Regions from separate parts of the Homo sapiens genome. Here all the other regions are linked to region 3. The links come from fine-mapping of genetic effects on gene expression. A gene starts in region 3. Each other region holds a variant in brackets. All regions are shown on one strand. Distances are between the middles of the regions. Region 1 overlaps NADK2 (NAD kinase 2, mitochondrial). Region 2 overlaps SKP2 (S-phase kinase associated protein 2). Region 3 holds the start of SKP2 (S-phase kinase associated protein 2).

What was found.
Region 1: its variant is fine-mapped to the expression of SKP2 in blood mononuclear cells (TOPMed, PIP 0.93).
Region 2: its variant is fine-mapped to the expression of SKP2 in whole blood (TOPMed, PIP above 0.99).

What each region holds. Positions count from the first base shown.
Region 1 is chr5:36,227,588-36,238,571 of GRCh38, reverse strand. All of the region lies in intron 1 of NADK2 (NAD kinase 2, mitochondrial), which reads left to right. Among named protein-coding and RNA genes, the nearest start is that of NADK2, 8.8 kb to the left of the region's middle. The variant TCTTTAGG/G (reference allele first, on the strand shown) is at 5,986.
Region 2 is chr5:36,175,077-36,186,060 of GRCh38, reverse strand. It overlaps SKP2 (S-phase kinase associated protein 2), which reads right to left. Exons shown (of 10, transcript NM_005983.4): 8 at 9,045-9,096; 9 at 8,769-8,876; 10 at 1,742-4,243. The coding sequence ends at 4,030. Among named protein-coding and RNA genes, the nearest start is that of SKP2, 28 kb to the right of the region's middle. The variant T/C (reference allele first, on the strand shown) is at 5,743.
Region 3 is chr5:36,145,824-36,156,807 of GRCh38, reverse strand. It overlaps SKP2 (S-phase kinase associated protein 2), which reads right to left and starts at 4,697. Exons shown (of 10, transcript NM_005983.4): 1 at 4,538-4,697; 2 at 3,766-4,037. The coding sequence starts at 4,545. It overlaps LMBRD2 (LMBR1 domain containing 2), which reads left to right and starts at 4,921. Exons shown (of 18, transcript NM_001007527.2): 1 at 4,921-5,252. MIR580 (microRNA 580) reads left to right here and starts at 8,820; the gene lies at 8,820-8,916. It also overlaps the pseudogene RNU6-1305P. RefSeq lists enhancers at 4,391-4,580, 4,654-5,637 and silencers at 4,851-4,990, 5,591-5,650.

The sequences.
Region 1 (10,984 bases), 82 kb before region 3:
TGACACCAGAAACATACCTCATTGGTCAAAAAAAGGTTTTATTTAAAGCTCTTTTTCACCTGTCACCAGGGATGGGGAACTGAATAAGGAAAAAAAATTTTAATGTAGAACAAATAAGAAGTCAGCAGTTTCTGCCCTCCTCTCCATCATTCCAGGTCTCACAACTCGGCAACCCTTTTACTGGTTCCTATTTTTAGTTTTGTTTTTTAAAATTCATAATGGGATAGAATAATTTCATTTAACAGTCTGCCGTGTTATTGGATTAAACTAGATGACTTGGAAGGTGTAGCACCTTGGATTTCCCTTTTGTTTTCTGAAGATTTTGTGGCTTAGGTTGTAGCACTTGGGCAGATAATACTTTTGCCACAGGGTATGCAATAAGCGTACCATGGTATACTTTTGTCAGGTGGTATACTTTTGCTACATTGTATGCAATAAGTATATTACATACAATATGATTGTTAATCAAATTAAAGAGCATGATTTGGAGTACTGCCAGAGCTTTCTAACTGAATCCTTGCTCCTCTCAAATCTTCTAGACACAGTTACCAGAGTGTCTATCTAAAGTGAACATCTGGCCCTTTCTCTCTTTTGCTTGGAACTCCACAGAAGCTCCCTGTACCCTTTAGTCACCAAGAGTACTTGTTAAAATGCAGACACCTGAACCTTAGCCCCGCAAGACTCTGACTCAGTTTGTGGAGAATTCCCAGACTTTGGTTTTATGAAGCACACACCTGAAATTAATGACTCCGGCTGAATTCCAGGGATGTGTTTTATCCCTGGTTGGCATGTGGTCCCCAGTTAAACTGAGAAACACAGTTGTGGGCTCAAGTTCATGATCTTTAGAATGGCAGATAAGTCCCTTCATGAACTGGCTATCTCTTGAGCTTCACTTCTGATCACTTCTTGTCTTAAATTTCATATTCTAGCAATTTCAAACTGTGTTAATTTCCATTAGATGTTGTACTGATTTAGTTTAATTTATGGATCAGTAGCACATAAAATGATTCAAAATATAAAAGATACAAAATATTATACAAAGAAGTCTTTCTGTTACTTGTCATTTGTCATTCAGTTTTGTCCCTGGAAGTAACTGTTATCAATTTCTTGTGTTTTCTTCCAGAAGCAACCTATACCTACAAATCAGCACAGTGAAATATTCTTTTTCTTTGCCTCATCTCTTTTTATTCAATGATAATATACTATTTAAGCTATTATGTGCCTTTTTTTTTAGCCTAACAGCATTTGTGGAGATTGTCATAAAGAACATTCCCATTCTTTTTAAAAATAGTATGTATGTTACTTTATTTTGTGTCCTAATTTATCTTCTGCTATTAAACACATTCTGAAATGAATAACATTTGTGTTTATATGCATGTAAATCAAGCTCTAAGACAAATACCTAAAGTTGAAATTGTTGAGTCAAAAGCCTTGTGCATATAAAGTTTTAACAGATTTGGCCAAATTGCTTCCCTTAGAGATTATACAGATTTTTACTTTCACCAGCCCTGTATAAGGGGACTTATTTTTCCATACATAGTTCATTAAATTGTTGGGTCTTTGCCAACCTGGTGGGTGAAAGATGGTATTTCAGGGTGGTTGAATTTGCATCTCTCAGTGTCTATGTGTCTACTTTTGTAGCCTCCTTTGATTTGAATGCTCTTCTTCCTCTATCCAATTCCTGTTTTTTTTTTTTTTTTTTTTGAGGTTAAGCTCAGACATTACTCTCTCAGGATGCCATCCTTGGTAACCTTGCTGTGCCTCTGCCTTTCTCTGGCTACCAAGATTGTGTTAGGCATTCTTCACTTCATAATACTTATCTGTGATTATTTTCTTTTCTAAACTGTAAACTCTTTGAGGGCAAGAATTGCATCTCCTTTATCGTCCTCTCCACCCCCATACTTCCACTAAAAAAAGTAGTAAAATGTTTCTGATGTTCTGTTAAGATCATTTTTAGGTCTTTTCTCCTTGAGCCTGGGGACCAGCTTCCTTCTAGTCCAGGGCCTTATTACCAGCTGTCTGTCTTTCCAGATGTTAGCTGCTGAAAGCTTAAGTCAGAGTTTAAGCCTTAAGCTTTGGATTCTTTGATAGAGGTTTCGGGTTAAATGTCTTTGAAAAACATGAGCCCAAGCAAAAGATGATTTTTATTTGACTATGGGATTCTTTTTGGTGGGAGGGAGCAGAAAATGTTTTAAATTCTGTGGAACACAACTTGGAAAACAGAGGTTTAAGGTATACTCCCTTTCTATAAATACTTGCAGTTAAATAGGAAACTCACAAAGATGTAGAAGAATTAAATATCACAGTAGCTGAAGTGTCACCATTAGAGAATCATTGACCAACATGCTTCACAGCCCTGATGTTCAGCCTTCACTGTATATAAGCATTATCTAGGGGGAGGTTTTAAAAACTACAAATATGTGACCAGCCATGAGATTGCAAATAACAAAATTTTTCACTGTTATCATTTTACTATATTTTTAATTATATAAATTAACTTCTAATAGTTGTGTTTGATGCACATTAATCTCTTCTCAACTAGTAAAGTGTAAATTGACTTTATTTGTCACTATCAGTGAACTTTGTAATGTACAACGGAAATATATAATTTCAAAATATCAGCAAGTGTGCCAGTTATTTCACGCTTTAGGAAAATTTATTTTTTATATATATATATATATATATTTTCTTCATAATAAACCACTAGATATGGATTATGCAGGAAAATAGACCAATCTTTGTAAAACATTTGCATTGAAGGAGGGTTCATCCAATTGGCTCTCCTCTTCCTAAATGAAAGGTGGTAGAATTAGGTCCTGATAAAGAACAGAATAGTTGTTGAGTTATGTAACTTAGTCATCACAATTGAGGCTTAGTGGCCTAATGAGTATTCACAGTTCTCAAGCAGGAGTAAGATATATGGCTAATGTAGGAATGTTAGTAGTATGTGGCTGCATGGATATAACAGAGTAGACAAATCCTGCTTTAACAGCAGAAGATCAGAGTTTTGATCCTGAAAGCACAATCTGATGTCTTTGTAATCTTGAGCAAGTAACCTAACCTCTCTGAATCAGTCTCTTTGGCTTTGAAATATTTATAGTAATACCTGCTTTTCCTTTCTCACATAATTTTTAGAAAGGTGAAATAATTTACAATTTACATAATTTAACTTAAAGCTGCATAATCTAATTCCAGTTTAGCCACAATAATGATCATTATGTAAATGTTACATATATTTAAATTATGTACCTGAAATAGCATTGATTTGGTTAACTCCAAAGTAGATTCCTTTACTAAGATAGATCACTTAAGTGAACTAAAAATATGTTGATTTTTAACTCTGCTTGCGTAGTGTTTTTTTAACCAAAATTTTAAAGAAGTTATCATTTCAAAGTAATAGAGAAAATAATTACAAAAATTATGATCTGCATTAAAAGTACTTGCTACAGTGTCACTATTGGCAATATCCAGGAAGTCTGTTAGTTAATTTGTTTAAAGTGTCACTTTTAAATATTTGTTCACAAAACCGTTTTTTGAGCCCCTGCTAACTGCTAGGCATCCTGCTGGATCCTGGAGAATCAAAGATTAGTAAACAGTTTCCAAATACATGGGAAACATCTATTACATTATATTATAAATATTTATAAGTGATCCATGGGAGTACAGGGAAGGGAGAGAACAATTTGGGAAGGGTAGGGATGAAGGGGAGAAAAGACTCCCCCACTCCCAACTTTTGAGTAGATTTTCAGTGATCTTTTTAAAGTTTAGATTTTCAGTTATGAGATATTTCAAACATATAGAAATGTTTCAGAAAGTAACAAGACACCTGTGTATTCAGCTACCTAGACTTAACAGCTATTAATATTCTGCCATATGTGCTTCAGAATTTTAAAAATGGAAATATTACAACTAAAGCCTTATGCATCCAACTTTTCCCACTCCCTACCTCACCAGAGGTAACCACTGCCTTGACGTTAAGTGTATTGTTCTCATACATATGCTTTTACATTTATTAATATGACAGTATCCATAAACAAGTGTAACATCATGTGTGTCTTTTAAAAGTTAGTCAATGATAATTCTGTTCTTTAGAATATGTGCCTATTCTTTAGAAATTTGCTTCTCTTATTTACTATTGGTTTCAAAACTTATCTGTGTAGATACGTGTTAATTCATTTTTTTTTTTTTTTTTTTTTTTTGAGACGGAGTTTCGCTCTGTCGCCCAGGCTGGAGTGCAGTGGCGCGATCTCGACTCACTGCAAGCTCCGCCTCCCGGGTTCACGCCATTCTCCTGCCTCAGCCTCCCGTGTAGCTGGGACTACAGGCGCGCGCCACCATGCCCGGCTAATTTTTGTATTTTTAGTAGAGACGGGGTTTCACCGTGTTAGCCAGGATGGTCTCGATCTCCTGACCTCGTGATCCGCCCGTCTCGGCCTCCCAAAGTGCTGGGATTACAGGCGTGAGCCACCGCGCCTGGCCCATTAATACATTTTAACTGCTGTGCAATATTTCATTGTTTGGATAATTAGGTTAGTCACAGTTTTTCCATTATTAAAAAAATATTGTAATTAGAAGTACAAATAATTTTTTCCATAAGCATTTAGTGGGTTCCTGAACAGCACTTAGTAGACTTTAACATTTTTGCTAATATGAAGGTGAAATGGTATCTTTTAATTTCAGGATGTTTGAATTAAATATTGAAAAATACAGAAGAATTTTTATGTGTGAAGGAGAGAACAGCAAGACTTGCGTGAAGTTCATCTTGTAGCCAACCAAAAGAACTCAAAACTGACTGTGATCCATAATCAGAGATCTCTTACATTGTGACTCAGTACATAAATTTGAAATAAAAGATAACAGGGAAGAATTTAGCCTTGTATGTTTTATAAAAACATCTTTAAATAAAAGATAACAGGGAAGAATTAAAAATATATTTTAAATAAAAGATAACAGGGAAGAATTTAGCCTAGTATGTTTTATTTTCTAGTTAATGATAATGCTGGCTGTGATCGTTAAATTGTGACCAGCTTATAATGCACTTTAAGACAATTTGAAAATCATAGTATATTGAGGCCAAACAGGTAGAGTGGACCTTATAAAGGTGGTAAGTCTCTTGCCAAGGAGTTAGCTTTATCTCCTAGTGGTTTTCAGACTCTTTATGGTAGAACACAACCCTTGCTCAGCCTGTCTTTCTCCATAGGAATTGGGTGATGAGGGTCAATTTTTCTGAGATTTCAGCATTTTGGACGTTGTATGAAAACTGGCTTTTGTTTTCATACGACGCCCAAAATGTGGTGGTGTTAAGGTTAGTTAGGGGATGGGAATTAGTCAAAGACTTTTGAATAAGGAACTAGTTTAGAAAATCTGGAGGCAAGCTTTTGCATTAGACCAGATAAGAGTTGGTGTTGTCCAGAACTCAAGCAGTGGCAGCATGAACTTAAAGTACATAGATTGTCAAAACACTTCACAGATGTAATTATTTGACTTCACTACTGACTGGCTGTGGACATTGAGTGTGAGGAAGAATTAAAGGTGACACGGATTTATTAAGTTGCTCATGTAAATGATGCTATTGTTAACTGATAAATTGGACTCAGAAGAGCAGATTTGAGGGGGAGTATATAATCAAGTTTTGATATTTTTGGAGAGAGGTACCTGAACTATTTGTGGATGGATGTAAAGGTAGCATTTGAAAATTCAAGGCTGTAGATCAAGAGACGTGGACTAACAGTATAGATTTCAAGGTTACTGGGATATACTTGGTAGGTGAGTTTCCTGGAGTGGGGCGATAACTCAGAGAAAATGAAGTGAGAGCAGATAAGAAAACCAAAGTTGGAACCTCAAGCAATATCAAGGGAGGAGGTCAACAGAATTAACAGAGGAATGCAGAAATAGAGAACGTTGGGGAAAATAAAGGTGAGAGCCTGGGAGAAAGTAAGTGGAATAGAGATGATCTAAGATAAATACCAAATATATGTGAAGAAG[TCTTTAGG/G]GTTCAGTGCACTAGGTCTGATCATGTTAGGTGAATGGTTGAGTATCTAGGTGTTGATTAGGTGCTGTTAACCTTTTTAAGGCAATTTTGAGTAACACTTAGAGTACCATTTAGTTAAATGTGTATGCTTTTAAGGGTGCCTAAATTATGCCTAGTGGATTGACATACTGAACTGTCATTGTCTCAAAAGTTTGTGCATTTATTATGTGTTAAATTTAAAAAAACTTAACTCCTTCCCTTATTAAGCTATCATAGAAATTACATAGAGTACAAAATAGCAATACTCAACTGACTGGTAAAACAAGTCTTAAAAATTTGTAATTGCAATAAATTTAGTTTTAGATAAGTAAAACCATCTGTGATAATTTAATAAAGGTGTTATAAACCATTTAGGTAATAGCATAACTATCACATCTGGATCTTAAAGTGTGCTAAATCTATCCATTCAAAATCTTGCTTTTTTCCTTACATGTTGTGCTTTATTTTAATATCAGAGCTGTGTGGGGAGACATGATCTTGGCTTTCGGAGATTCTGTAGGAGAAACTCTTGCTTATATTGAAATGTGTCTGTCTGTCTGTAGATCTCATGGAGTCACCTGCTTTTTCCAAGTGTCCTGGTGAATCTTTATTTATTTATTTATTTATTTTAATGGAGAGAAGAATTAACAGGTTTTTGGGGAAAATATTAAAGACTGTTACTAATAATGTTGTGTAACATTGCAGAGAATTGGGAATGTGTTCTAAATTTCAGTAATTTCTCTAACCTTTTAATGGTAAGACATTGTCTAAGAAATCATGTGTTCTTATTTTTGTCTGATTAAAGGAGTGTTTTAAGATATTTGAAGTCATGTTATTTTCAAAGGTTTAGCAAGAAATTCTTACCAGCTTTTGCATATGCCTTTTAAACAAATATAATTATTGGACTTCAGTACTCACTGGCTGTGGCGATTGAATGTAAGGGAAGAATTAAAGCCAGTTGAATAGTGATTTAAGCCTTTCTAATTGATGCTGTTTATTAAGTGATTTTCTTATTTTTTATCTGTCTCATTTAGCCAGTTCATGTTAATAAAGCTTAATAGCCCAACCAGCGAGGCCTTTAAAGAAAATAAGAACTTACATTCTCTAAATGAATGTTGAGGATGACTTATTAGAAAGTTAGTTCACAAGAAGAAATTTGAGTGGGAATAAGAATTTATGAACTGACATTTCTGCTTCAATGTTAAGTATTCTGATGCTGCCTGAACTTTGTATTTAGATTTGGAATTTTAGGAATTTTATTATTGTTAGCAATCATAGAAAACTTGAAGTTTTTTGTTAGTTCTCCAAAACTTTTTCTCCCACAAATTCAGACCCTTTCGCCATCTCAAGCCAAAGTTCCCTAACAGTCAACGCCATGTATCTTATTTTCCTGGGGCTTGCCGAGAGCCAGGAAGTAAGCATAAAAGTTTCTGAACTACCAGACTAGCATTTACAGGGCTTACACAGTAAGGTTTATGTGCTTTTTTCCTGGGTACATGTTCCATATTGTCCAAACCAAAATTTGGAACATAAGGTAAAAATCCTGGATAGGGAATTGAAGTATGAGGGCCAGCTACCCTTGAAGTTTTATTTAAAGTAGAAGTGGTAAATTAGATATAACTGTTGTAATAGGCTTATTGTGCATTTGAATTAGTTATCATTGTCTTTGGCAGTTTGCAGTGCCTTGTTTAATACATTTGATTAAGTTCAACTAGTAGTTAAATGAACACAGTAGTAGGCAGTCAAATATTTAGATGAATTTTTTTTAGAGCTTAACTTCTAGCTGTGTAAAGTGTTCACGCCTAAAGTGGAATTGTAAGAGATAATTATAACAAAATAATATACTATAGTAACTAATCTAACTCTCCTCAGTTCTAAGGGTTGGTTTGCACACTGTTGTCACTTTCTGGGTTATCTTCTGTAGCATCTGCTTCTGCACTATTCTTGCTTTTCTGGAAAATGTATGCATGAGTTCATTCAACAAATACTTAGCTAGTACTTAGGCCCTGAGGAACAATGGCAAACAAGATAAGTAAGATCACTGTTCTCCCAGCACTTATATTCTAGTAAGGAGATTCAAAGGGATTTTTTAAAAATACCAGGAAATTTTAGGTGTGGTAAATGCAAAAAAGGGAATTAACAGGTGTTGGGATGGAGTAATTGGCAGTGGTGGCTGTTGCAGCTGCAAGGGCAGCACTAGCAGCAGCTGTTTCAGCAGTCCTGGCACCCCAGGGTTAAAAAGAGTCAGAGTTAGGTGGAGGGATGGAAAGCATTCCAGCAAGTACAAAGGAAGAGCTTGGTGAAAATAGACCAAAGAGATTAGAGTGTTGGGAATGGGGAGGAAAAATGAGGTAGGAGAAAGGAGCAGAAGTCAGGTGGCATAAGCCTGAGAGTTGGTAGGAAGAAAGTGCCATTTGTAGAAGGGCATTAAGCTGAGGAAGAGACATGCTGTGGTCTCTCTGGTTTCTGTGTTCGGAATAATCTATAGGGTGCCAAGAGTGGAAGTAGGGAACCCCTGTCAGAGGCTTGTGCAGTGGTTCACGTGTGAGATCATGAGTGGTAGAGGGGAAGAAGAGAAAAGTGCTTGGATCAAATATAAGATTTAGTAATTGGATGTGGAAATAAGCAAAAAAGGAGGCATCGGCTGTGACTCTAGACTGTTGGCTTAAGCCATAGGTGGGGAATTCTTGGGCCAGAAAATCAAGGGCTAGATATTGAACATGCTAGATACTGAATGAATAATAATAGCATTTCAAGTATTCAGTATCTAGCATGTTCAATATCTAGCCCTCTAAATTTGAGGTGCCTGTTAGATAGCCAAAGAAAGATGTCAAATAAGCAGTTGAATAAATGTATTTGAGGCTCTAAAGATAGGCCGGGTTGGGAGATAGCAGTTGGGAATCATCAGCATCAGCATATAGATCTCTTTTAAAGCCGTGAAACTAGAGATTGCCAAGGGAGAGGGTAGTGGTCCATACTCACTGAGAGGTGGTTAGTGCCGTTTTAGTCAATCTGTAGCTGGGTAATGATAGTGGTAATCTGAATATTCATGCTCTGTTGGTCCATATTAAGAAATTCTACTCTAAAATAGTTTTTCAAACCTTACTGACTCATGTTGATTTGTTGATTAAATTAAATGAAGGATTTTTCTAGTTATTATCATAGTCAGTGCTTTCCTTTAAAAAATTATTGACATTGGTTGCTTAGTCTAAGTTTAATGAGGCTTTTGGCTAGGCATTAAATTTTGGCACAGGCTGTCTAATCTATTATAGTATATCTTGGTAAGTTAACATCTATTAATTAATTTTCACAATAGCCAAATGCTTCCTCAGCTTCTCTTTTGTGAGAACATAACGAAAATTACAAAGCAAGGACAAAACTATTTAAAAACTCTTAACCCAGTATTCGTAGGCAAAAGATGGGGAAGGTAGGTATCAAAATATTAACACTAATGATTTTGAGCCATAAGATTATATTTGATTTCAATTTTCTTTAAATATGCATTTTCCATATTGTTAGTGTTTTCTTTATAACCTTTAAAAAGTAAAATATGTATTAAAATGCTGTCTAAAAATTAGTTTTACTTTATAGTTCAGTAAGTAATGATTTAAAACAAAATATTTGAGATTGTATATTAGGCTGGGTGTGATGGCTCACACCTGTAACCCCAGCTTTTTTGGAAGCAAGGTGTGTGGATTGCTTAAGCCCAGGAGTTCGAGACTAGCCTGGGCAACATGGTAAAACCCCATTTCTACCAAAAAAAAAAATAAAATAAATTAGCTGGTTGTGGTGGTGTGCACTTGTAGTCCCAGCTGCCTGGGAGGCTGAGGTGGGAGGGCGGCTTGAGTCCGGGAGGCAGAGGTTGCAGTAAGCTGAGATCACACTACCACACCCCGGCCTGGGCAACAGAGCCAGACCCCGTCTCAAAAAAAAAAAAAATCATGTCTAGACAGGTATTTGAAAGACTGATTTTGTTACATAAAGAGGAAAGGTATAAGCTGGGCACAGTGACACGTGCCTATAATCTCATCTACTTGGTAAACGGAGGCAGGAGAATCATTAGAGCCTAGGAGTCCAAGACCAGCCTGAGCAACATAGCAAGACAGCATCTCAAGAACAAAAAAAAGAAAAGAAAAAGGGAAAGGAAAGGTATAAAGGAATTCGGAGGAGCAAAGAAAGTACAAATAACACACTTTTGAATTCTAGCATTCACTCTAGTGGACAAATTTCCTACTTGGTGATTAAATGGGTGTTCACTAAGGATATTTCTGAACTTTTTTCTCTACATTTTACTTTATGGATTATTCATAAGAAACATAGTTAAAAAAATTTTAATGGTAAGATAGTTATAAAATGTTACTCCAACTAGGAAAAATAATTTTTGAAGGATATATGTATATATAAGTTATCCTTTCTAAGGGAGCTAGTCAGCCCTTTGTTTAGATTTCGTAAGGTAAATTCCAAATAGAGTTTATAAATCTGAGAACAAGAGAGAAGCAAATCCAAGTGGAACAAAGGTCATCTAACCGCCTCTACAAGTATTAGTTTATCTTTGGTCATCAAGTAGCCATATGCAGTGTGTTAAAAAGTCATCAAGGCTGAGGCAGGAGAATGGCATGAACCAGGGAGGCGGAGCTTGCAGTGAGCCGAGATCACACCACTGCACTCCAGCCTGGGCAACAGAGCGAGACTCCATCTCAAAAAAAAAAAAAAAGTCATAAAAAAAATAAAAAACTTAAGCTGTAAAACATAAGATTTTGAGATCCTGGTGACTATATGATTCAGAAAACATAATGCTGTATTTGGTATTAAAGCCAAATTATAATTTTCTGATATCAGGCTTTCTAGTTCAATTTGTACTTGTAGGTTTCACAGGTAGTTATTAAAATATATTTTCAAAAAATTATATTTTATACGGGGCTTTTAAAAATCATAATATTAGAACATCATGTGTAATATATATTAGTAAAACAA
Region 2 (10,984 bases), 29 kb before region 3:
ACAGATAAACAGAGAGCCAAATCATGAGTGAACTCCCATTCACAATTGCTTCAAAGAGAATAAAATACCTAGGAATCCAACTTACAAGGGATGGGAAGGACCTCTTCAAGGAGAGTTACAAACCACTGCTCAACAAAATAAAAGAGGACACAAACAAATGGGAGAACATTCCATGCTCATGGATAGGAAGAATCAATATCGTGAAAATGGCCATACTGCCTAAGGTAATTTATAGATTTAATGCCATCCCCATCAAGCTACCAATGACTTTTTTCACAGAATTGCAAAAAACTACTTTAAAGTTCATATGGAACCAAAAAAGAGCCCGTATTGCCAAGACAATCCTAAGCAAAAAGAACAAAGCTGGAGGCATCATGCTACCTGACTTCAAACTATCCTACAAGGCTACAGTAACCAAAACAGCATGGTACTGGTACCAAAACAGAGACATAGATCAATGGAACAGAACGGAGCCCTCAGAAATAATACCACACATGTACAACCATCTGATCTTTGACAAACCTGACAAAAATAAGAAATGGGGAAATGATTCCCTATTTAATAAATGGTGCTGGGAAAACTGGCTAGCCATATGTAGAAAGCTGAAACTGGATCCCTTCCTTACACCTTATACAAATATTAATTCAAGATGGATTAAAGACTTAGACCTAAAACCATAAAAACCCTAGAAGAAAACCTAGGCAATACCATTCAGGACATAGGCATGGGCAAGGACTTCATGTCTAAAACACCAAAAGCAATGACAACAAAAGCTAAAATTGACAAATGGGATCTTATTAAACTAAAGAGCTTCTGCACAGCAAAAGAAACTACCATCAGAGTGAACAGGCAACCTACACTATGGGAGAAAATTTTTGCAATCTACTCATCTGACAAACGGCTAATATCCAGAATCTACAAAGAACTCAAACAAATTTACAAGAAAAAAACCACCCCATCAAAAAGTGGGCAAAGGATATGAACAGACACTTCTGAAAAGAAGACATTTATGCAGCCAAGAGACACATGAAAAAATGGTCATCATCACTGGCCATCAGAGAAATGCAAATCAAAACCACAATGAGATACCATCTCACACCAGTTAGAATGGCGATCATTAAAAAGTCAGGAAACAACAGATACTGGAGAGGATGTGGAGATATAGGATCACTTTTATACTGTTGGTGGGACTGTAAACTGGTACAACCATTGTGGAAGACAGTGTGGTGATTCCTCAAGGATCTAGAACTAGAAATACCATTTGACCCAGCCATCCCATTACTGGGTATATACCCAAAGGAGTATAAATCATGTTGCTATAAAGACACATGCAAACGTATGTTTATTGCAACACTATTCACAATAGCAAAGACTTGGAACCAACCCAAATGTCCATCAATGATAGACTGGATCAAGAAAATGTGGCACATATACACCATGGAACACTATGCAGCCATAAAAAATGATGAGTTCATGTCCTTTGTAGGGACATGGATGAAGCTGGAAACCATCATTCTCAGCAAACTACCGTAAGGACAAAAAAACCAAACACCACATGTTCTCACTCATAGGTGGGAATTGAACAACGAGAACACCTGGACACAGGAAGGGGAACATCACACACCAGGACGTGTCATGGGGTGGGGGCAGAGGGGAGGGATAGCATTAGGAGATATACCTAATGTAAATGACAAGTTAATGGGTGCAGCACACCAACATGGCACATGTATACATATGTAACAAACCTGCACGTTGTGCACATGTACCCTAGAACTTAAAGTATAATTTAAAAAAAAAGATAACAAGACTGTATTAGCCCCTTTTATAAAGGCATTATAAACTTTTTTTTTTAATGTGACAAGCATATGAAGTAGATGGGTCAAAAAGGACCATCTCAGGGCTCTGTTTTGAAGAGTCTTATTTAGAGGTATCTAAGCCAAATGGCATACCACACTAAATGCTTTCAAATTTTAACCACAGCACTTAAAAAAAGAGAAAGAAAAAAGGAATACAACTTAGTTTAAGCACTCATTTTTATAAAAATGTGTTTTATTGTTTTAAAACAAGTCTATAAAAGTAGAAATCACATACAAAAATACAGATTACTCTGACATGTTGGCAAAATAGCTTATGGCTGGACTTGAGTTTGGAAGTTCTGTATGTTTGAGGGCATCCGATGTCAGAGTCCAACCGGATCCTAACCCCAGCTCTTGTCACTAATCTGTAAACAATAATTTCAAGTAGTATTTAGCACTTTTTAACTATTAAGAAATTGAAGCATCATCATTTCCTGTGCAACCCAACTTTAAAATCTTCCTTAGGTCTAAGCAGATAAAGGCACTTCATAGTATGTTTCTAACATTAACAATTTTTGATTTAAAAAAAAAAAGTTAATATAAATGACTGGTGTTAGCTTTTTTTGTTGTTACATTTTGAACATACGAACAAGTCATCAATTTAAACTAGTTTTTGTGATTTTTAAGAAGTAGAATTTGGCTGGGCGCAGTTGCTCATGCCTGTAATCCCAGCACTTTGGGAGGCCAAGACGGGCGGATCATGAGGTCAGGAGATTGAGACCATCCTGGCTAACATGGTGAAACCCCGTCTCTACTAAAAATACAAAAAAATTAGCCGGGCGTGGTGGTGGGCGCCTGTAGTCCCAGCTAGTCGGGAGGCTGAGGCAGGAGAATGACGTGAACCTGGGAGGCGGAGCTTGCAGTGAGCCGAGATCGCACCACTGCACTCCGGCCTTGGTGACAGAGCGAGACTCCGTCTCAAAAAAAAAAAAAAAAAATAGAAGTAGAATTTAATCTTTTCACTTCTCTGTACCAGTTTAAAAAAATATATATCACTGATGGTATCAAAAGGTCCCACATCTGGATTTTAACTCTTATGTAGGTATAAGTAGTGCTTACTACTGAAACTGCATGGAAGATATACCTGCTTCTACTGTATATTTCTGATTGAAGAGAACATGCAGTTCCTCTTAGGGAACTGTAGGTCTGATAACCTTATATATGGATAGTTTCAAACAATTATTGCTGAGAGATCATTTAAAAAAAAAATACAATTTAAAATACTTGATTCCAGAGTAATATAAAAGTAACCTTAAGAACCTCAGCGCTAAAGGAAAACAGCAGGCAACTTCAGAATTCTCCCATCCAAATTTTCAAGAATAGAGAGTGGATTAATACCACCTTTCTAAAACAAAGCAAGTCATTTTAAAAGCTAAAGGACCCATGTTAACATAATTTGATTATCAAGTTAGAAAACCACAATTATATTTCTCATCTAATTTAGATTCTGGAAACACAGTAACTTAATGAACATTACAGGATACTTCAGATTAACCTGTCATAGAAAACTGTCTGCTGGGCCTTCAAATCCTATATTGATTCTATATCTCTGGGTTTTGTAATGTTTGGTCTTTTGTTAAGTTTTAAGGTGAATTACATGGGGTTACTTATTTCTATTAACCTAATTTCAAATCTAAAGGCAAAATTCAAATACATTTTTCTCTTTCCTATTCCTAGAAAAGATGGCCTCAGACGCTACTATCCTATGATTCTCTTTTTGTTCAGCTCATAATACAAATAGCTTATTGTTCTTCTAAGCTGTCTTATAAAGCAATACTATAAAATTAAATAGATAAAAGTTATATGGGCTATGAAGATTGTTTGCTGGTGGTAATTTTTAAGCTTGATTCTGAATAGACTTAGTAAGAAGGGCACTTGGAAGAGGTGGCTCAAATTTTGCTCTTTAAGGTATCTTGAAATTATAGGCTCACTCTCCTAAAATTTCAAAAGGCCTACAACTTTGGCTCTTAAGAGCAAAGCAGTGATAGAAGCTTTTAGAATCATTTCAAAAAGCAAGATTTCATAGTTTTCCCTCTCAAATGGCTCCCTAGTATACTTGCAGAATGAAGGCAAAGGGAAAACCAAGAATAAAACTAGCTAAGTACTCCAGCAATTGGGCTTCCTGCCTATTTTCCCTGTTCTAAAGAAGAGACACCATCCTGCAATAAATACTTCATAGACAACTGGGCTTTTGCAGTGTCAGTCGGCATTTGATGCCCCATATCTCCTGGTTCTTTTTGTTGCCAATAGTTGGCCTGGCAATGGTGGTGAAATGGGAGCAATTAATCTGTAGATGAGGAAGGGCTTCCTTTAACAGTTGAAGGGTACCATCTGGCACGATTCCAAAAACTTGTAGTGTTTTTAGTGTGGGAATTTCTCCAAGTTCACTGGAAAGGAAGAAAAAGACTTTCAGAATAGCAGTATCTATGGAAACTGTTTGACTAGAGTTATATGACCCAAATTTTACAATTTGTGTCATCTACAAAATGCAGTCTGAAAGTGTAATTTACAATAAATGATTTGAGAAAATAGCAAATTAAACTGGAAAGCACAGACCATATAGCTTGAGCAACATGTCATTAGGAAACACACTGCTGCATTTTATTGAATGAGGTTCCTAATAACCTTAGAAACTCAGATTTATTTAAGAATCCAACCATATTTGCTTCCTTTCTCCAGTTGTGATTTATACAGTGATCTGAATGGGGTTACTGTGTTATGAGAAGAAACTAGCAAGTGAGTGATGGTAAAAGCAAATGTTTTACTGCGGCACCAGTTGGAACCACCACAGGTTACATGCAAATTAAGGATATGAACTTGACCTTTATTTGAACTAGGCTCATCTCTTAAAGGGAGATGCTGTCAGGACTGATGAACTTCTTAATAATGGTTCATAGTCAACAAGTCCATTATGTGTGATGAAAACTACCACTGACTTCCCTAAGATATTTTAGATAGGGTTATACAGTTGGGTACAGGTAGAGACAATGGGTGAAAAATCACACCCTTTATAGGAGGTAATAGCCATCTTACCTCCCTACGTATTACCATTTTTTTTCTGCATAGATAAGCCAGTCCCTTTAGGTATTTCACATTAGATGAAATTCAACCCTGTTAACAGTGAAATTCTGTTTCACAAATTCTGTTTCTCAAATTCTGTTTCACAAATTCTGTTTTTCCAAAGTAAATACTGTTTGGTGTTGGTAATGATTTTTTCCTTCTTAACTCAGATCTATGTGCCTAGAAATTCATCTCTCTCATCTCTGTTTGCTCAAGGTTGGGACATACAGTACAAAGTCTCAGGAAAGGGAACATTTATTTTGGAATTTCAACAAAATCCTACTACAGATCAATGAGCACATCAATTACCTAAAGTCAGAAACATCCTTTATATTTTCACATTGTCAATAATTATTTTTAAAAAGCCCCAAACTTTCCTTATAACTGTCTTTCTTCCTTCTAGCCTATTCTATATACCAATTTCCAAGGCATCCTCCTAAAGCCTAGCTCATGTTAGTCATTCATCTGCTCCAAAACCTTTGATGCTTCCCTTGTGTTTACAGAACCCAGGCTGTTCAGCTAGTCTGAAGACCTTCCGTGTTTAACCTGCTCTTCCAGTCTTCCCACTACTCCCCTAAATGTATTTATTCTACATTCTACAAGGTGTCTTAAACCCCACAAATGTTTAATATACGTTAGCTGAGTACAAGATGAAGGCTAATTTATAAAATAAAAGCATTATCCAAGGGAAATAAATATGCTTGTTCACAAGGGGACAATAAGATCTAAAGGTATATAACCAAAGAAAATCAGAAAGAACAAATTGCTGTCATTAAGTAAACTGCTTTCTGGAATGTAGAAACACTGTCGAAGTAAGATCACAGTA[T/C]ACACAGATACTTATACTTAATCACTTACGATGACAGCAATCCAGCTCCAACTTTGAATCCCTCATGTGAAACTTGGGAAACGTTGTAATTACTATGAGAATTCTGGTTCTGGTATATCCAAATTAGCCAAATTGTGAGCCATTCTGCACTGGAGAATATTTAAGGGAAGAAACTGTAGGTGGAGTAAGAAAAGGAGGAATGGCAGATGGCAGAGGAGGACATGTTCTTGCAACAGCATTGGGAAAGAGATTTGGTGAGGAAAGAAATTAAGAACAGACTCTCAGAACACACCCGGGTGTTATATATAAGGGGGTTATATAAGATAAGATGATGGATGAAGAACCAGTTCCAAGTCAAAAATCCAGAAAGTCTCTAAAATTTTAAGGAGACAAAAAAAAAAAAATGCCCCCGGTATGTGCATTACCTACAACTCAGAATAAAAAATTTGCAAGCATCTTTTAAAAACTACAATGGAAGAGACTGAAGAGCAAACTAAGGGATAGCAAATAGAAATAAGTAGTTCAAGAGCCATTATTTCTAATGTAAGAAATGTAAAATCACACCAATGTCTTATGTATATTGAATTTTAGAAAATAAAAGATATTTATGAACTCTTTCACAGGATTGCTCCTTACCTTATCTGTACAATAATCCTGTTTTCCTTATAAAATCTTAAATGCCTCAACTACAAATGCTCCTACCACAGAAGTCTTTTAGTCTTATCTTAGATTAGTTTACTACCTCCAGCTTGGGTTTCTTACTTGAATGAGAAATAGGGAAGAATTAGAAGGAAGTTTAGACATAGAGAAGAAGACCAATTAAGAAGTAAGGGAATAAATATAATGGGAATAGGTCCTGGGGAAGAAAACTTTATAGTTTCCCAAGTATTTTAAAATATTACAGAAGAAAGACATTCAAATTGTATTTTCCCACTTCCGAGAAATAAATAGCCTTAAGTTCTTTAGCATAGATGGCTCTCTTGAAATTATTATGGAAACATCCTGGAATTTTTATTATAAACCTCAAATATATCAGCTGCCAAAATGATTGAAATTAGAGTCATTCTAATTCTTATTTTATCTCAAGAAACTTTTAAGCATAAGGTACCAACAAACTCATCCTAAAGGATTCACAATGCAAATCAGTGTACTATTTACACAATACCTAAAGAAATATACTCTTTACCTTAATGTTCAAGGACAGGATCTTTCTTCTTCTCTATTCTAGTGGTCTGACTTGTAACTAAACTCCTAATGCCCCTGTTTGTCTTATTTCATAAGATTTGTACAAATAAGAAATAATAATACAGTGAAGGTTCACAACAGGTCTGTGACTTCAGACCCGTGTTTGTAACTATCAATTCACACTGCCTCCAAGTATTACCATGCCATTATTATGCAGGTATCGCAATTACTATTACTATTATCCCACTGGATAAAAATATTAAAATGAAGAGCTCACAGCCTTCCCCTCGCCTCTGCTTGAGAAAAAGCATTTGGGTCATTACCTGCTTAGCTTCTTTCTTTCTGCAGAGAAGGAACAAAAGCAAGACACATGGATAGATTCTCTTGAGAAAAGCAACCCAAAAAGAATGATCACCACACTCCCCAGGGGGCTGCACAGGCAAAGAAGCAGGAGGCCAGATGGCAAGGACAGGAAAGAATGGATGACAAAGAAGCCTTTTTGGGTAGACGCTAGAAGCTCCTAGGAGTTCTGGATGCTAGAAAATAGAGAGGGCAGGGATTTTAATAAGAGTTTCATGCGCATGAATTTAAACCCCAACATTTGAGAGCTGGGAAAGTAAATCCTGCCATCCTATTTTAGGCAGTCCTTTCCCAAATGAGATACCAGCTCAGACCCTGAACCCCAAGATTAATTTAAAAATGATTAATTAAAATGCGTAGCTGCCAGATTTCCTAACTCTACTAGTTAACTCTGTGTAGCTGAAGTATCTGATTTATTCATTAATACTTGAAACTAACTTAAAAGATTCAAACTATGATTCTGAGGACTAAAGTTCTTTGTTCAAATTCACCACCCTTCCTACCTAGGAGCTGGAAGCTAAATTAACTTTTAGTTCATGAGCTACATAAATGAGTCCAGCAGCCGCATTCAAGACATGTTGGGCACCTGATCAACTCTAAGATACTGACCTCTTGTGGTTTTTAATAAAATTGCTACACATGTACATTTGCCATTAGGGAGACTTTTCCAGCCCTTTGGAATGAAATGCAGAAAACCTTTTCAAACAAGATATGATTCCCAGGATGAGTTGGGTATGGTGTTTCCCAAAGGAAAGATGGACCAGGCTGCTGCTTTCTTGCACTCCCTTGATTCTGTGGAAGTTGCTGAGCAGGTAAAACTAACCCTTGTATAAACTATTAGATTAGATAGTGACTATTTTGCCTCTGTCCAGGAGACCTAGGATTTAGATCCAGGTCAGCCACCAACTCACCATCAGGTTTGAATAAGTCACTTCACTTCACTTTTTAGACCTTAACATGCCCCTGTTCAAAAACAGTATCAGACTTACAATACATACCATCTACAGGCTTATATCTTTCCAATTTCTTCACTATCCAGGACTTACATCACTAGAAGATACAGAACTTTAAGCCCAGATGAAAGTTTTGGAATCAACTGGAGTTAATCCGAAAAATTTGGAAAGAAAAAAAAAAAAAGACACTAACCCACATTGGGTCTGCCTTCCCAATTACACTTCAAGTTTCCTGGAGGAAAAGGTTATCTTCTGCTTCTCTGCTAAGTCTTCTCATAGATACTAAGACAGCAAGCTAGTAATTAAAACTGCTTACAGCTAAACAATAAATGTTTAGTGAACAATCTGGATCAACTCAATTTCACCAGTTTAAGCAATACTCTGCTGGTCTTTCATAGCCAGTCTGTGGTATACTTATTACTAATGTTTCGGTTTCATATGTCTATTAATAAAAATGGATTTTCACACCAAGGGGCATCTCTGTTGTTTCCTGCCTTCTATTAAGCATTAAAAACAAAACATACTTACAGTAAAGTTTCAGGTATTATATCATAGCACCGACTGAGTGATAGGTGTTGGAGGTAGTTGAGCTGGAAAAATTCCTGAAAGCAGTCATTCTTTAGCATGACACTATCACTGTTAAGAAGGCAGAAGAAAAGATATTGAAAATCACACATTGATCCTAGATAAAGAAGACAGAAATAACCTACTGTTTAGTTGCTTCAACATTATGATCCTTTCCCAATTTAATGAGAAATCAAGATTTTTCAACTTTTGATCTAAAATAAACAAATAAAAAAATACCTTAAGTCTAGATGGACAAGATTGGGGCATCTTCTAACTAAAGTAGAGAGATCTAGGAAAAGCAAAAAAACATGATGGTCACTATTAAATGAGGAACAAGACAAGGATATTTGTTATCACTACTATCATTGAACATCATGCTGGAAGTTCAGGGCAATGCAATTAGAACCACACACTATTAGAAAGAAAAAATGATCATCTTGGAACATAAAATTTTCTACCCAAAAAGCCCAAGAGAATCATCCGAAAAAGAAAACTGTGTAAAATGACAATCTTTAGCTTATCTATGTATCAGCAATAGCAGGCTGGAAAAATAATAGGGAAAAAAATCCCATTCACAAAAGCAAAAAGTAAAATTAAACACCAGTATATATAAGCAAACAATATATTACAAAGGTAGCACCTCAGATCAACAAGAGAAATAATGGATCAGTAAAAAGAAATATTGCCACTACAACTGGAAAAAAATATTTCTCCAACTCAAATAACATATTTAAATACATTCCACATAATAAGTTCTAAATACAAAAATAATATTTTTGTATTTAGGGTAATAATATATTAAATATTAAAAATTACTAAATAAATAATTCAGGGTAATTATTTAATTGAATCTTGGTATAAGGTATTTCTAAACATAAAAGAAAACATAGGGAACACATAAATTTACTACATAAAATTTTAAAACTACCATATTAAAACAATTTAAAAAGTATCAGAAAACTGGGAATGTTTTCAACATATATTAAACAGTGAGTTAATCTTATATAAAGAGAAAAAAGATAAATCAAAAATAGGCAATGAACATGAACAAATCTACATTGCAAAATACCAAGATAATAAAAAGGAGCAAGAAATACCAAATAAAATTAGAAATATTTCTTCTCAGCCATCAAGTGAAAAAAAATTCTATTATAAAGTAGGTCTACCATAAAGTAGGTCTTCCATGTACCACAGGTAGATATTTAATTTTATTTGCAGGCTTTCAGGAGCCTGAACCCTGCGTTTTTTGGATAGTGAACTGATTCCTGCTTTTTTTGGATAGTGAACTGATTTTCTTTTTTTTTTAAAGAATTCAGAGAATTATACAGTTTACTTTTGGCCCAGTAATTCCACTTTTAGAAAAATATAGATGTGTATGAATATATTCAATGTGGCAACAGTTATATTAGCCCCTCCTCCAGTTAGTTTAATATGTTAACCTCATCCATTCCGTGAAATACACTGCTAATCATTATGAAAACGCTTTCTGATAACATTTCATACATTTAAAAAAATACTAGGATAGCTTGTAAACAAAATATATACAATGCGTTATAATTTCAACTTGGTCAAAACACACTCAAACTCACATTTACACACAAACACATACACAGAAAGAAAGAGAGAAGAAAAAAAAAAGGCTGCAAGGAAATACATCCAAAATGTTAACTGCAGTATTCAAGGGTGTTTGGATTACAGGCAACTTTTCAGAATTTGGAAGAAAGTCATGTAAGCTACTTGGCAATCAGAAAATGAATCAATAAATGTTACTTATTTAGAACAACAGGCAAACTTCATTAACATTTGAGGGTTTTTTCGTCTCACAAGTATATCCCCTCTCCTAAATTCTGGACTTGCATTTTCAACTGCCTCCTCAACATACCGTTTGGATATGAGATAGGCCTCTAAATTTATGTCTAAAATCAAATACTCAATTTCTCCCCCAAATTTCCTCCTTCCCTAAACTCTTTCCCATCTCAGCAAGTGATAATTTCACGAATCCAGTGGCTTCAGCCAAAACCCTTGAAATCATAGTGGACTATTTTTCTCACATCCCACGTTCATTGTGTCACCAAATCTCATGATGTTGGTTTTTAAAATGTGCCCAAATCTGATCATTTCTTACCACCTTAAGTGTCACCAGCCTAGTCTGCTAACTGGTCTCCCTGCTTCATACT
Region 3 (10,984 bases):
TTCTGATATACAGTAAATTTTAGTATCTCCAGTCTGACAACCACTTTAGGGTCTGGAATTTCAAGCATTTAAGAGTCATGGAAGAGCTGATCAACAAATTAGTTCACCTCCATTTTCATGGCTATCACCTGTTTAAAGGGTGGGGTGGGGGACAAGCATTTCATGACCATAAATAAAATGCAATTGTCCCCTTTCCGCCTGTTACTGACCTCATTGCTGGGCCATTTCCTCCCCAACTCTTTCCATACACTCACTCCAAGGGCCAATCAGACCTGTTCTAGTACAGGTTGGCCACAGAGCTTTCATCTTCCCAGATAAACGGATGAAGAGGATTTAGTTGCCAGATGTACGGCTGGACTGGGGCCTGCAGGGAGAAACTGCTTAGCAAAGAACCAACAAAAACTTGCAGCCCAGAACCAGTCATCAGATATCTATGTACAGCAGGTGTGGCCTGTTCTACCCTAATCCTGGCAAAGCTAGTAGCCACCTGTCCTGACAACTGCAGACAAAACTCCTTGGAATGACAATCCGGCTCCACTGGAGGCCCAGGCTTCCAAAGGCCCATTGGGAATCCTCTATACCAGCTGTCCCTCATCCTGCATCACTGATTTCACCCTTCCCCACTCCACACCAATTAAGCAATCTCTGTTGTAAGTCCACGTACATTGGTTTCCCTCTGTGCCTCTCCTTAGGTAATAAACATAAAAGTCACCATTCTTTCTCTCTCCCTTCAGATATATACTTTTGAAGTCAGCTTTAACCATCAAGACACTGATTACACCATTTTCAGAGCCCTCTCTTTCCTCAGAATCTCCTTTCTTGCTGAGTGGAAGGAGGAAGATCTTCCACATCCACCTGAATGGGAATCACAGCTCTTATTTTTTATTGTATTTTCTCCTCAACTTGACTTGCAAATTCCTGGGAAATAGCAAAGACTCCGGAAACTTCTGTCTTGTTCCCACAGTGCCTTGCTTAAAAAAAATTCTTTTTCACTTGTGGAAGGGCATATAGCAATCACACTCTATGTCAAAAGCTATCGGCACTGGACAGGTTAATAAAAATCTGTTCATCTTAGCAGGAAGTATCTTTCGCCATATTTGGTTGGTCAAGCACCAGATTGTTAGGGCTACATTCCAGACACAAAGAAGAGCGGTGAACATTAAATTTTGAAGAAAAAAAATTTTATACTAACAGGGTCAGAGTAACAATATTAAAAACAAAAGATAAAAGTCCACTAGCCTCCAAAATTGGTGTCAGGAATTTTGTTGGCTTATGTATTGTTACGTGTCAGTGGCATGCTAAGGGTTTTACGTCATTCTCATTTAATCTTCACGACGACCTGTGAAGTGGGTATTATTACAGCACTCCATTTCACAGATAAAGGAACTAAGGCAAAGAAAGCTCGAATAACTTTCCAAGGCTGATAAACGCAAGAATGAGGATTCAAACCCAGATCTGACTTCACTACAACCCTCTACTGCTTTTCTAACTAATCCAATTCCTGATGTATATTCCCAGACCATAAATTGGGCAAAGTTCTCTTTCCTAAAGAAAAGGCTGAAAACAAACGTATTTATTTTCTTAATTAAAAGTGGAATGCATCTCGAATCCGCATGTCTTCCTGCGCAGGGGCCATGCTAATCTTCTCTGTATTTCCAGTTTCAGTATATGTGCTGCCAAAGCGAGCAACCAACCAATCAACTAAACAACCAATCTATCAACCCTTCTGCAAAGGAAACCAGATGGGAGAATTTATGAATATACTTAAATTACCTTGGGTCTGCAAGACTTCATCTTTAAATGTTTAATCTGTTTCTTCTTCGCCATCATCCCCCACCTGATTTCAATTTAGACTCTGATCACCTCTTCCACAGATGATTTCAACAGCCTCCTAAATTCTGTTGACTTTAATGTGGGAATATATCCGGAATCTGACCACCCTCACCCCCAACAAGACTTCAAGCTTTGGCCAGGTGTGGTGGCTCATGCCTGTAATCCCAGCACTTTGGGAGGCCAAGGCTGGAGGATCGCCTGAGTCCAGGAGTTTGAGACCAGCCTGGGCAAGATGGTGAGAACGCCCCCGCAACCTCCATCTCTACAAAAAATAAAAAAATTGCTGGGCGTGGTGGTGCATGCCTGTAGTCTCAGTTACTTAGGAGGCTGAGGCAGGAGAATCGTTCGAATCCAGGTGAAGACAGTGAGCCAAGAGCAGGTCACTGCATTCCAGCCTGGGCAACAGAGCAAGACTCCGTCTTGAAAATATGAAATTTAAAAAAGACCCTAAGTTTCTACCCTTGATGCCCCTGCAGCTGAGTCTCAACACATCAGTGTGTCATTTTTAGAAGGTTAAATCAGGTCCCATCACAACTCTGCTCAACATTACCTCCAGCCTGATCTCCCCCGACTCTCCCTTTCGCTCATTCCACTCTTAGAATATGGCTTCCCTGTTCCTGGAACAAATACGTCACATTTATGCACCAGGGTCTTTGCAGTGGCTGTTCCTTCTGCTTGGAGCTCTTTTCTCCAAGATATTTGCATGGCACACTCCTTGCCTCCTTTATGTCTTTGCTTAAAGGTCACTGTCCAATTGAGGCTTTCTCTCAATACCTGGTTTAAAAGTGCACTCTATCTTCCCACCCCAAGACCTGCATTCCCTCTTGGCTTGTTCTATTTTTGTTTTTAGCCATAGCTCTTATCACCTTCTAACATACTATATAAAAATAGTTATTGTGTTTATTGTATTCTCTCACTAGAATGGATGCTCCCTGAGAGCAGAAATGTTTGTTGTGCCCACTCCTCTATCTCCAGCACCTGGAACACGGCCTAGCACATGGTATGTGCTCAGCAAATATTTGCTGTATTACTGTTTTAAATAGCTTACTAGTAAGAAAAACTGATAACCCCAGGTCAATGCCCTGTTTATCCTATGGCTTTTGCATACTCCAGGGTTCTGGTTCACTCTGGGAGGCACTCGTTCGCCTGCTTGAGGAACTAGGGGATGGGGAGCTATTAAGGAGGGAAGATACAGTAAGTTCTACATTTCAGTCAATCCATTCTAGTTCGGGGGATAGATCTGGGGAGAAGAAGGTTGGAATTATGAATCCACTCCAATAGTTCAGGCAAGAGACGACGAGAACTTGAGAAATAGTTACCAGAGAAGAGGGAAAGATGCGATGAATGACTGGATGTTGGGGGGCGGTGGGAAGCTGACTGACTCTCAGGTTTTCGGGTTGGGTGATTAAACAGATAGTGTCAGCAGTAATGGAGACAGAACATACCAGGAGAAGCCAATATGGGGGTGGGAGTGGGCCTGGGGAGATGTCTCCCCCACTTAGGTGAACGTTCACTTCGCAGTCCACTGATAAATAACTAAAGTGATTAAGGCAAAAAGATCACTCAGGGGTACAAAGCAAAAGGAATCCTACAAGAAGACCACTGTTTATGTTTCTGTTAAACGGTGAAACTGAGCTGGCCTTGAGGCAGGCAGATTCCCTTCTAAGGAAAAAGGCAGGAATGTCTTCTCATGGGTTAAAATTTTCAAGGTGATTATGCACCAGAACATACATATATATATATATATATATATATATATATCTACCAAGATTCCTGCATACTTGACGACTTGCCCTATTTTGTTGAAAAATAGCTTCAGAATTAGGCAATCTTAAAAGGAACCCATGCTAAAGATCTCTGAACAAAGGTTTCCCAACAACATAGCTAAATCCACCCTTTGCATAACTGACATTTTTACCCTCATGTCCTTACCTGGAAAGTTCTCTCGATTTAGCTTAGGCCTGCGGACAATCACAAAGTCTTTGTCACTCCCTTTGCTCTTCAGCCGTTTCCGTGGGGGGCTCTCCGGGTGGCCCAGGTTTGAGAGCAGTTCCTGGGGGATGTTCTCACTGTCGGGCTCCTCTTTCTCCAGGGCGGAGACCCCCATGCCTGACAGCAGTTCAGAAGTCTTGCTGGAATCCCATCCCCACGTGAAGCTGGTGGCAACGTTGCTACTCAGGTCTGGAATCTCCTGGAGGTGCTTCCTGCAGAAGTGCACAATACCCCCGGTTCCTTTCGAAAACACACCCATAAATAATTTCAAGGCAATTAAAGAAGCTGCAGTTTATGCATTGTAGGAAACCTTCACAGCAGCTAACAGAATCGCATTTTTTATGTGCCTGCGGCGAGTTACCAAGAAAACGAAGAAATGAAAAGAACAAATCGAGAAGGCTTTTTGACTTACGATCCTGCAGAAGGCCTCAAGAATTTCTCCCAGTGGAGGGAACAGACAAGGAGAGAGACAGGGCAATCATACACTGATTGAAAACGGTGGCAGAAAAGCCCAATTAGGGAAGCCAAATAAAACCACACGCTGATCCCCGCACTAAGGCATCCATCCATTCACACTTTCCCCAAGAAGGGGCTAAGCAACCATTCACTTAACAGCATTACTAACAATATTAGCCAGTAGCGATATTCGCGGCCTAAAAGAATTATTAAGAGGGTCCATTTCATGCTCTTCCCCTTTTTGCAATCCGTTTACCTGTGCATAGCGTCCGCAGGCCCGGGAGTTTAAAATACGTGCATTAACTGCAGAGCTGCTCGCCTCCCAGATTCCCGCTTTGGCGCGCGGCGGCTCCGAGCGTGCTGCTCGGGCCCCCAGCAGCCAGACCCGCTAAGCCTAGCAACGTTCCATCCCCACTGCGCGCGCAAGGCTCTACAGCCCGCTCTGCTTCGCGGCCGCACTGAGGCCCAAGGCCTGCTGGGAATTGTAGTTTCCGTCCCGCTTCGTAGTCCGACGGGCTCGCCCTTACTTCCTTCCCTTGCAGCTTTACCCGCCTTCGAGATACCCACAACCCCCCGCGGGAGCGGGACTGGTCGGCCCACGGGGTAGGCGGGGAGGCGGAAGCGGGCGGCGCTACGGCTGACTGGGAAATGTCAGCCGCTGGACTGTAGACGGATTTTCCTTTCTCGGGAGCCCGCAGGCCTTCTGGTGATCGCCAGCGCTGTCGTCTCTGAGCGTGGATCCCAGAACCTGGACAGCTGTGGCGGCCGCCGTTTCCCGGTCCCGTCCAGACGCTGTCTGGCGAGATCGGACGGTGAGCCTAAGGCGGAACGCGTGAGGCGCTTTTGAGTCTGGGGTCCGGGGCCGAGAGCAGGCGGAAAGAGAGGGGACCCGGCAGACCCCGAGTGGCCGCCGCTGCGGGGCCCAAGTCCTTGGCTGCTGAGTGGTGACAGTAGCCCAGCCCGCCGGCCAGGTGAGAGGCTGCGAACTGCTGGCGTCGCACCTGTTCGTCCTTTTGCCAGGAAGCTTCTTCCTCCGTCGGGGAGAAGGCGGCCCTAAGAATTGGGTCTGTGGACGGGATCCTTCCTTTATCTGTAAAATAACGCACAACAGCTAAACACGCCGTTGGAACGAGAGACAATGGTTTAATTTTAGGGGAGCCGGAGACCCCAGCGGGTCCTGTGTGGTGGGAAGGCTGCGCATGCCCTTGCAGCCTTGACAGGTCTCATAAATAGCAACATGGGAATAAATGAAAGGACTGTATTTTGCAACGAGCTTTACCCGTGCACGCAGGGGGCCTCCAGCAAAGCCATTTGGTTGCTTGCTGTCGCTCAGCTGGCTACGTGTGTTTGCGTCGCCGCCTAAAAGCGAGCTGCTTTCAGCCTATCTCTGCTGAGAAGAGTTTGGGGGCAGTAAGAGTAGGGAGCGTGACATATTCCAGGTACAATGACCATGCGAAATCCATTGGGCAAACTATACTACAACTGTGACCCCGGGAAAACAGTGGAAGAGGGAAGGGGGATGAATTCTAAGCCTCATAAAAATGAAGATTTATAAAGTTCATAAGGAAGCATAACAGCTTCATCGCATATTAGAATATTCAGTGATGCTGTATGACACACCCTCTGGTTTCCTTGAAAAAATGATTCGCTCTGTAGTGAAATTAAACCTCCCTTGTGCAGGTATATGCTTGTTTCAAGCTTGGTCCTTAGCTTGAAAAGTAACTGCCTCTTGAGGAAGGAATTCATGAACCTTTAGCTCGTTCTTGAAAGATGAGATTGGTGTAAAGAAGGGATCTGTTCACAACTTGGTTTTGATTGGAACTAGGTGCAGAATCCTAGGCTAAGCCGTTCATCAAACTAATGTTATATGGAAAGCATTTTAAAATGCAATATCCTGATGTTTTACAGAAAGTGACCTTTATGTTACTTTGGCTAAGGAGAAAGCATTTGCCTTTGTTTGAAGCTACGTCCTTTCCCTGAAGATTGCAACTCATAGGAGAAAATATTTTTGACACAAAAAATTATAGTTTCCTTCAGGAAAGGGAACAAAACAGAGAGAGCCTGTAAGCTAATGGAGGAGAAAGAATAAACAAAAATATTTAAGATGCCATAATGAGAATAAACAGTTTTGAGATGTAAAATAATTGGGAGAGCCCACTTCAGATATAGATCTCATAGATAGGAAGGTTTAATCGATGAGATGATTCTAAATTTAAAGATGAGAAATATCTTTGTTCAGTCTTGGTTTTACTAGGAGTTACCTGGGAACTAGAATACTTGCAACATCTGAATTAGTGAACACAAGATCCTCTCTAGGACTTCAGGGAGAGCCTGTCAGTTTTGAAATTCAGTTTGATAGTTTGCCCCGGTAACAGACATACTTCATCTTCCTAATATGGGAATAATTTTTTTTTGCCTTCCTTCTAATCATGACTATTGCCTTAATATAATAAATGCAAGTTTAAATTGGTACATTAGATTCTTTTTAACGTAAGGAATTGTGTCCATTGAAGACGAGATTAGTAGGTACATAGAGGTTGCTATCTGGTCATAAAGAACTGCATTGTGATTGCTACTGATGTATCTTATTTTTTCTGATTAATTTTATTTTTATTTTTTGAGAAGAAATTTCACTCTTATTGCCCAGGCTGGAGTGCAATGGCGCAATCTCGGCTCACCATAACCTCCACCTCCCATGTTCAAGCAATTCCCCTGCCTCAGCCTTCCTGAGTAGCTGGGATTACAGGCATGCGCCACCACGCCTGGCTAATTTTGTATTTTTAGTGGAGACGGGGTTTCTGCATGTTGGTCAGGCTGGTCTCGAACTCCCGACCTCAGATGATCCACCCACCTCAGCCTCCTAAAGTGCTGAGATTACAGGCGTGAGCCTCCGTGCCCAGCCGATTCTTACATCTCTTTAAAAGGAAGACGGTCCACCCTTCTTTGTTTCTCCATCCTGCTGTCTAGATGATGATAGGATTCCTGGAGTTCCAGCATCTGTCCTGGAACATAAGGATTAAAGCCACCTGCTAAGGATGTGGACTATAGAAGGGGCCTGGGCCTCTGATAATCTGCTAACTTGCCATAACCACCTATCTCAAGACTTACACGAGAAATAAATTCTGCATTGTATAAGTCTGTACTATATTGGACTTTTCTGTTATGTGTAGCCAAACTAATCTTGAATAATGTATTTCCAGAACTGATAGTCTCTGTGGTGGTGGCAGCTACCTGTTTACATAACCCTTATCACCCCCTAATGTATTTTTTTTAATTGCCTGTTTCTTCCCACTAGACTTTTTAAGGGCAGGGACTTTGCTTGGATTTTTCTATCTCCAGCCCCTTGAACAGAGCTCACCATATAGTAGGCGTTCAGTAAATATTTGCTAAATGAATGAATGGTGCTTGGAACTAAGTAGATCTTTAATTCATTGTAATTTAATGCTCTAAGATAGGCAGCTTGGGGCAAGAACAAACGGATTCTAATTTACTCTATGTTTTCCACTTTTCCCATGTAGAGTACAGTCATATATTACCCTTAAATCAAGTAATAGTAGTATAATCTGTAATGTAAAAAGTTTGCGTTAAATTCTTTATTAAACATGACTAAGCATTCTGTCCTGATATATCTAAAAGAAATGGGAGAAAGTTTCTAATTTGTTCCCTGTGAAGACTGAACAAAATAAATCATTAAGCAATTTAAATTGCATTAAGAAACTATGTCTAGATTAGAGAAGAGACATGTAATTATGATCCAGGCTCTGTAGTAAAGATGCCTCTATTTGAATCCCAGCTTTACCATTCACCAGCTCTGTTAACTTGGACAAGTTACTTAACCTCTCTGCACTGTTTTTTTTCTGTTAAGCAAGGAAACGAACAGCCCTTTCTTACTAGGTTGTGAGGTCTAATTTGATAAAGCTTGGCAGGTACTAGTATTAATACAATGCTTAAAATTTAGTGAACACATTCTAAATGTTAGCTATTCGTTTTTTGAAATTATTTTATTATTAGGAAGGACTTTACAGATTATTCTCTATCAAAATGTCTTGCAATTTCTATGTATGAAATCTTTAAGAATTCAGTAAAATTTTAGTTCTTTTTTCTTATATGCTTACATGATTGCTACCTCTTCTCTTCATGCCTTGCAAAAGGTAAAGCAGGACAGTATGCCACTGTCCTCAGGGGCTTGTCACATTTTGGAATTCAGGTTACCTGGTTGGTTCGCCAACTCAGCTCTTAGGTACCTTTAAAAAATATTATGATGGTTTTTTTTTTTTTTTCATTTTTCGAGTGGGAGTAATAGTCTCTTGCAGTAGTCTGTGTCCTAAACTGAACTCTCTCATACCTGAAATCTTTAAATATGTGAATAACGATTATGTTTGGAAGATTTAAATTTAATTATTGGTGGAAAATTGTTGACTTAATCATTCACTTCTAATTCTGGTTCTTTTGATTTTTCATAATTAGGATTTTGAGTTGTCTCCTGGTTTTTATTATTTTGCACATATCTGAGTAAAAATACAGATATGTGAAGTTAGATAAAATTTCCAATTGGAACCTAATGATTCATCAGACTCAGATATTTAAGTTAACAGTATTTGAGAATGATGAATCATTAGGTTCCGGTCAGAAATTTTTCATTCAGTTTCAGAATCTTTGGTTTTGACAAAATTGTTGTCAGTGTTTTGTTTGTGTTCTGATCACTTGGTACCCATTCTCTCTCTCTCTCTCTCAAAACATTTGGAATTCTTCAAACTACAAAATTATCTTAACCTCTGAAGTTCCATCAAAGGGTATTTGGCCTGAAAAACTATTATCAGCCGTAAAGTACTCAGGAAACAGTACTTTAGTCAGTAACATTAGTCAGTAACATTAACACGCTAATTGTGAAACCATTATAAAGGCATTTGAAAGTAATATTGAATAATATTTTGATGATTGGAAAAAGATTGAATTGGATTTTAAATGTTTAAGACTTTCAGAACTGGTGTTTTGAAGGGTACGATATGCCCACACATCGGGCACTAAAATCTGGTAGTTTTAATGAATTGCCATTTTGATTTCGAGTATAATCAAGTTTTGCTACTGTGGTGCTTAATCACATGGAACTGAATTTTTATTTACCTCCCCATTTTAGTATCACCATCATCATCATTATCATCATTATCATCCCCTTTCTTCTCCTTCTTCCCTAAACCTTGCAACTCATCACTTGAATGTTGGCACAAGGTTAAAGATATGGACTTTGAAACTATTATTTTCTCAAGTTAGGAAAACCCCAATTTTTATCTCCAGTTTCATGGGATCACTGGTCCTAATCTGTGTCATAATAAGGCAATATAGTTCGGCCTCAACAGAAATAGATGGTATGGTAAACAGAATAATAAACCCCTAAGAATGTCTATGCTCTTATCTCTGGAACCAGTAAAAATGATGAAATTATTCAGGCAGGCCCAGTGTAATCAGATAAGCCCTGTAAAACAAATTTCAAGTGTGAGAAGAATTTGACAAGCCATTGCTGCTTCTAAAATATTCAGGACCACAGACACACACACACACACACACACACACACACACACACACACTCACACACACACACACACACGCAGAGAGAGAAGTGAGTGAGGAGATAGATATGTTAATTTGTTTGACTATGGTGATTATTTCACTGTATATGTACAGTATATCAAAACATCACTGTTGTGCACTTTAAATATATACAATTTAAAAACATATACAGAGCCACATGCAAAGACTGGGGAGAGGCCTCTAGAGCTAAGGTTAAATGCCAGCTGTCAGTTTGCAGGGGAACAGGGATCTCAGTCCTATAACCATAAAGAACTGAGTTTTGGCTTGGCTAGGTGGATCATGCCTGAAATCTCAGTGCTTTGGGAGGCCAAGGTGAGAGGATCACTTGCAGCCAGGTATTTGAGTCCAGCCTGGGCAACATAGCAAGACCCTGTCTCTACAAAAAAAATTTTTTTTTAAAATTAGCCAGGCGTGGTGGTGTGCACCTATAGTCCTAGCTATCTGGAAGCTGAGGTGGGAGGATCAGTTGAGCCCAGGAGCTCAAGGTTATGTTGAGCCATGATCATGCCACTGCCCTCCGGCCTGGGCGACAGTGTGAGACCCTGCCAGTAGCCTGAATGAGATTAGAAATGGATTCTTCTTCAGAGAAAGATGCAAACCTGCTGACACCTTGATTTTAAACTTGTGTGACCCTAAGCAGAGAACTAAGTTGAACTATGCTATGTTTGAACTTCTGACCTACAGAAGCTATAAGATATTAATACTAAATGGATGTTGTTTAAAGTCACTAAGTTTGTAGTAATTTGTTACAGCAGTGGTAAGATACTAACACATGAAGTGTGGGAAGGTATGTAACCAAATCATTTATTACTAGAATAAAGGATCCATAATTCTATTTCTTCATCTACAACCCTTTAAAGTGCTGACTATGAATCAGACTGAAAAACAGAGTGCCATAGTAAAAAAATTAATAGCTAGTGTCAGGTTTATAACTGATTTTGTTGTTTGCTTATTATGCCCATAATCTTACCACCTAAAGACTATTGATGTTTTAATATATTTCATTGTTACCTTACTCTTTTTTATGCTTATGTAAAAATATGTGCCAAATTTTCAATTGCTGTTAGGGTAATTTTCTGATGTTATTAAATAATCTTAACAAACATTATTTCTT